Homo sapiens: one gene and its partner. The protein of the gene in region 2 purifies or fractionates together with the protein of the main gene of each other region. This does not show direct contact. Each region holds a gene or a part of one and is shown on either strand. Other genes may lie near its edges. The genes, in order: POTEJ and PFN3.

The links.
Region 1: the proteins of PFN3 (region 2) and POTEJ purify together in Homo sapiens (affinity purification with mass spectrometry; one large-scale study listed by BioGRID and IntAct). This does not show direct contact.

The regions. Positions count from the first base shown.
Region 1 is NC_000002.12:130,614,207-130,618,037, forward strand, and holds part of POTEJ (POTE ankyrin domain family member J), read left to right. Parts: intron 1-2,583; coding exon 2,584-2,698; coding exon of another isoform or gene 2,699-2,728; intron 2,729-2,858; coding exon 2,859-3,032; intron 3,033-3,831.
Region 2 is NC_000005.10:177,399,344-177,401,855, forward strand, and holds PFN3 (profilin-3), read right to left. Parts: upstream 1,319-2,512; 5' UTR 1,234-1,318; coding exon 820-1,233; 3' UTR 766-819; downstream 1-765. UniProt on the Homo sapiens protein: Binds to actin and affects the structure of the cytoskeleton. Slightly reduces actin polymerization.

The DNA of each region.
Region 1 (3,831 bases), on a different chromosome or scaffold from region 2:
CACAAAGTTTGTGAGGATGAAGAACAGTGGTACTTATGTAGTTGTTTAAAGTTTAAGTTGCTGCAGCTTTTCAAACAGACACTTTAGTGGTAAGAACTACATTTTAAAAATGTGTATGCTTTTTACTTATCAATTCCATTATACTGAAATATCTTTACGAAATAGATGTGTTTTTCTTAGTATTGCTTAAAATAGCAGTGTATTTAGAAGAACCCATATAAAGATTTTATGAACAAATTTCAGTGCATCCATAGGATGGAATAATATGTAACTATTGAGGGTGTCAGTAGATACAGAGATATGTCGACGTGCAAAGATGTACTTTGCTATATCAAGTGAGAAAAAAATCAGTTTGTTACACATATACACGAACAGAATCTGCTCGTGTTAGCTGAAAATCTGTAGAAAATATGATCAAACTTGTTTCTGGGGATTTGTAAGTGAAGTTTTTCCCTTTCTCTTATCTGTGATTTCTGCAATGAACATCTGAAGTTGTAGTTAAGGTTCATTACTAATGCAATAATCCTTGGGAAGAGAAGGAATATGCTTCTTGCATAGATGCAAATAATTCCTCACATTCTATTATTTATTTTTATTTCTGTGGTTGGCTATTTTCTGTGAACTTTTACCCTCTTCAGAAGAAGAGGGGTCGTGTTTACCTGTTCCTGTAGATTTTATTATATATACATTTTATTCCATAATTATCTTTTCATTATATATAGATTAACATGTAAAAAGTATGAATTAATCATTTTAGTTGAGTTATATATTTATGAAAATTAAAATAGCAAATATAAATGATTATTGCTATTGCAAATGTATTGCGCTACTCTATAGGAGTTTTCTTTAAAAATATTGAACTCCCAAGCTGTGTTCATCCATTTTTCCTATCCATTTAGTCATCAGACATAAGCCAGACACCTATTATGTGGCAGGCATATTCTACTATCTCTCAGGATCCTTCCGTCTTTGAAAACTACATGTTTTCCTGCTGGGCTTGAGCAAGCTGAGAGATTTAAAATTGGGGCATTAGGACTTAATCTCAATTGAAGCTTTTCCTCCCTCCTTTCAAACAAAAGCATTTCTGGAGGTAGAAAATAGTAATAGATAACCTTTAACTGCCCTTTTGAAAATTTATGTCTTGGGGAAAAGACTGTTTTAGTTGTTTTAAGAACTAAAATGTGGTACATAAACAGCATGGAATAATATGCAGCCATAAAAGAAGGAACGAGAGCATGTCCTTTGCAGGGACATGGATGGTGTTGAAAGCCATTATCCTTAGCAAACTAACATAGGAAGAGAAAACCAAATACAGCACGTTCTCAATTACAGGTGGGAGCTAAATGGTGAGAACACACAGATACCTAGAGGGAAGGAACACACACTGGGGCCTATCAGAGGGTGGAGGGTGGGAAGAGGGAAAGAAGCAGGAAATAGAACGAACGGGTACTGGGCTTAACACCTGGGTAATGAAATAATCTGTACAACCAACCCCCTTGGTGCACATTTACCTATGTAACAAACCTGCACATCCGGCACATGTATCCCTGAATGTAAAAGTTGAAAAAAGCTCCACAAATAGTTTCATAAATCCATTTTAAAACAACAAAATTTATAACAGTCTTAAATCCTAATATGAATGATTGGAAATATCTGATGTACATACATTGTATAAATCTAAGTGTTGACAAAAATGAGCCCATGCTATTCATTTGAATTCCAAGTTTTCTTTGACTTAAAGTTTATTGAAAACCAAAGTAAGAATTGGTTTATTTTAGAAATTTGTTTTTGTTTTCACCTCTGCTCTCTTATTCCATAGTTCTTTTAGGAACTAAAATTTATCTAAATGCTGGTCATCTGACTGGAACCGCCCCAGACCTGTTGTAACATATTCTACTTAATGTAAGACACCAGGGATTGTATGATGCCCCATTATTTTATGCCTCAATAAGAGAATTATTTAAATGCCGCAAATTATAGTAAATCATGAATTGTAAGTGGTATTTCAGTGGACACAACATGGAGACAATGATCATCTCAGAATCACTAAAATACAATGTTAGCTGTAATATTTAAAACACACCTGAAAGTGCAGGTATAATTGTATCATCTCAATTCAAATGTTGTCTTTAGTGGTATTAGTAAAAATTAAAATATCTAACAATTATTGAGCTGTTATTTGTGTTAGGAACTATTCTATATCTTTTGTGCAGAGTCTCATTTAAGCATTACAGTGGTTTCCCGTAAGAAAGCTACTATTTTCATTCCTATTTTATTGATGAGGAAACTGAGACCCCAAAAGGCTAAGCAACAGCCAGGAAGTGACAGAGCTTCAAGTAGGATTCCAGCTCAAGTTGAATGTCATCCAAGGGCTATGCTCTTTGTATTCATATAGGATGCTCTTTCATTAATACAGCGAGTAAAGAGAGATAATAAATAGTGTGCTTTTTTCATGGGAAAGTTAAATGTTTGTTTTGAAGGCAGAGTAATAGCAGGCTATTCAGTGTTTGCAATTACATGAATCATTGCTATGGCTGTAGCTAGTGCACTACAATTTCCTAAAAAGTCTTGTCACTCTCATAGGACTGCTCTACATCTGGCCTCTGCCAATGGGAATTCAGGAGTAGTAAAACTCCTGCTGGACAGACGATGTCAACTTAATGTCCTTGACAACAAAAAGAGGACAGCTCTGACAAAGGTATGCAGTAGCCAACTATATCAGCATGAGGTGGGTTTGATTTCAATACATAGCATAAAAATGAGTTTTCTCCTTTAAATATAACTTAGGTGGTGAAAGCTGTGGAATGTTATTTTGAATTCCTAGGATTTGTAATTTGTTTTTGGTCTAATACTGACAGGCCGTACAATGCCAGGAAGATGAATGTGCGTTAATGTTGCTGGAACATGGCACTGATCCAAACATTCCAGATGAGTATGGAAATACCACTCTACACTACGCTATCTACAATGAAGATAAATTAATGGCCAAAGCACTGCTCTTATACGGTGCTGATATCGAATCAAAAAACAAGGTATAGATCTACCAATTTTATCTTCAAATACTGAAATGCATTCATTTTAACATTGACCTGTGTAAGGGCCAGTCTTCCATATTTGGAAGCTCAAGCATAACCTGAATGAAAATATTTTGAAATGACCTAATTATCTAAGACTTCATTTTAAATATTGTTACTTTCAAAGAAGCATTAGAGGGTACAGTTTTTTTTTTAATGCGCTTGTGGTAAATAATTTTTTTGAAAGCACTGAATTTGTAGAAGGTAATACTTACTATTTTTCAATTTTTCCCTCCTAGGATTTTTTTCCCCTAATGAATGTAAAATGGCAAAATTTGCCCTGAAATAGGTTTTACATGAAAACTCCAAGAAAACTTAAATATGTTTCAATGAATAGAGATCCTGCCCCTTTGGCAAGTTCCTAAGAAACAGTAATAGATACGAAGGTGATGCGCCTGTCAGTGGCAAGGCTTAAGATATTTCTGATTGCTCATGAGGCAGAAGTGGAAAGCGGAAAAGAGAGCAATCAGAAATATCAAGGCCAATTTGGAAATTAGGTAATAGAGGGAAAAGACCATGAAGAGGTTGTGTGTGTGTGTGTGTTGTCGTTGTTGATTGATTTGTTCCCTTTGTATGGTGAGACAAGGTTCTCTTCAATTTTAGAGAATGACAGTTTTCAGTTTGGGAGAGGGAGTTAGTGGGTTGTAAACTGAATAGAGATCAATTTTAGGAGGCCTCTGAGGAACCAGATTGGCAGTGAATAGGTGGTAATGTAAGGGGAAACCCTTGAGCAGAGGGAATATCAAGTAATTAACTG
Region 2 (2,512 bases):
CACCCTCCCTCCCACTTTTGTCCACTATCTTTGGGCAATAAACCAGGCCTCAAACTTACCCAAGCTTTTCAATTCCCCCTCCTCCATAGGTCACCCTGAAACTGAGGCCTGCAGAGTGAGACTCCCGGGTAGGGATGCCAGAGTTCCTCCCTCTAGTCCAGGGACTCCTGCGGGGCCTTTTCGAAGGCCTGGGGAAGGCAGGATGTAAGGTCTCAAACCCAATTGCGATGGTCTTGGACATGAGCCCTCTCAGTAGGCTCCCCTTGGAGGAATGTGGGCAGAGATGCAGAGGCCTGTGAGCCCCAGAACTGCTTTACAAGCCACCAAGCCCATCCTGTCACCCACTCACAACTTGCTAGTGCTTGAGGTATGAGTGGAGGGGGGAGGAGCAAATTGGCCTCCAGCCTGACACCCTGATGGGGAGAGGTGTTCGCGGGATGGGGAGGGGGCTCCCTTTACTTGTCCTGCCTAATGTGTGGGAATATCTCTGAGAAAGGACGCTAAGGCTGAAACAGACTTTGAGAAGCCCCCACCCTTGGACTCTTCCTCAGCTGCGGAGTCCCTAGGACCCTGGGAACGCGCCAAGGAGCAGCAGTCAGGCCAGGAGCCTCTGCAAGGCGTCCATGGGAGAGCAGGGTGTAGGGCACAGGGGCCTGGCAGCCTCTAGACTCAAAATCCCGGCTCCACCAGGTAACCGTCTTGCAAAGACCAGTTTCCTTATTTACAACTCCCCCCACCGCGCAAGTGGAGGAGGAGCCAGCCGCGCCCAGGTCACAGTTTATTTGGCCCGCGCTACCAGTGGGCGGCCTGGCTGGCCGGCTAGGCGCCCTGCATGCGCAGCCCGCGTATGAGTTCGTGCACCGTCTTGTTGAGGATGCCCCCATGTACGCCGCGTCGGCCCATTAGCACCAGGAGCGCGCGCGGCGCACGGCCCACGCACACGGCGCGCGCGTCCAGCCCCTTGGTGCGTGCGTCCAGCACGCCGTCACCCTCGGCCAGCAGGTGGTCGCGGATGACGCAGCAGCGGCGGCCCCCCACGCTCAGGCCCGCCTGCAGGAAGGTGTGCCTGTCCGGCCCCGTGAGCACGCCCACCTCCTGCGGCGAGATGGCCGCCAGCAGGCCCCCGGGCCGCGAAGCCCACACGCAGCTGTTGTCCGCATGGCCCACGATGGCCACGTCGTCGATGCGCTGGTCCCGCAGCACTGCACTGATGTAGACCTTCCAGTCGCCCATCGCGCTCCGAGTGCGCCCAGCCGCCTCGCACCTCTCGGGGAAATATAGAGGCGCCACGCGGGGAAGGCCTGCGGCGCTGTGAGGCAGGCTGGGCGGGGCTGTGACGTCACACAAGGCGCCGTCCCGGAGCGACCACCCAGGCTGGGGCACGTGGGGCGTGGGCGTTTAGTGCTGTCGCAGTTCTAAGGTTATCCTGTAGGATGGGTTTGGCAGAGCGCAGCGGCTCACTCCTGTAATCCCAGCGCTTTGGGAGGCCGAGGCGGGCGGATCGCTTGAACTCAGTAGCGAGATTATAGTAAACTATTATAGGATCGTGTCGCTGCACGCCAGCCTGAGCCACAGAGCGAGGCCCCGTCTCTAAAAAAGCAAAAACAAATTTTAATTAAAAAAAATTTTTTTGAGATGAGGTCTCACTATGTTGCCCAGGCGGGTCAGGAAGTCTTGAGCTCAAACAATCCTCCCGCCTCAGCCTCTCAAAGTGACGAGATTACAGGCGTGAACCACCGCATCTGGCCAATCTATTTTTAATTTTAAAAAGCTGGTTTTGTGAAAAAAGGATGTTGTGTCTGGACAGCCAGACCTTCACTTGTAAGGGAACCAACCATTCAACCCCCAGATTGTGGTTCTTAAGCATGAGAGAACATCAGAATCCCCCGCAAGGCTGTTAAACAGATTGCTGGGCCCCACCCCAGACTTTCTGTTCAGCAGTATAAAGTGTAGCCCGAGAATTTGTTATGTGTAACAAGTTCCCTGGTGATGGTACTGCTAGCCAAGGGACTCTCAGACCCACTACACTAGTGCGTGTTGGGGTGGGGACAACGATATGTCACCCAGCCCTTAGGGTCCACGCCACAGTCAATGCTCTTTTTTTCTATTTTCTTTTTTCTTTTCTTTCTGTCTCTCTCTTTCCCTCCCTCTGTTCCTTCCTTCCTTCCTTCCTGCCGGTTCAAGTGATTCTCCTGCCTCAGCCTCCTGAGTAGCTGGGACTACAGGCGCACGCCGCCGTGCCCGGCTAATTTCTTGTATTTTAGTAGAGACGGGGTTTCATCGTGTTGCCCAGGCTGGTTTCGAACTCCTGAGCAATCCACCTGCCTTGGCCTCTTAAAGTGCTAGGATTACAGGCGTGAGCCACCGCGCCCGGCCAATGCTAAGTATTTCTAACCACGATTCTCAACCTTGGCTGTACATGGAATTATCTGGGGAGTTTTACAAATATACCACTACCCATGCCCCATCCCTAGACATACTGATTTAATTGGTCTGAGGTGGAACTTGGGCA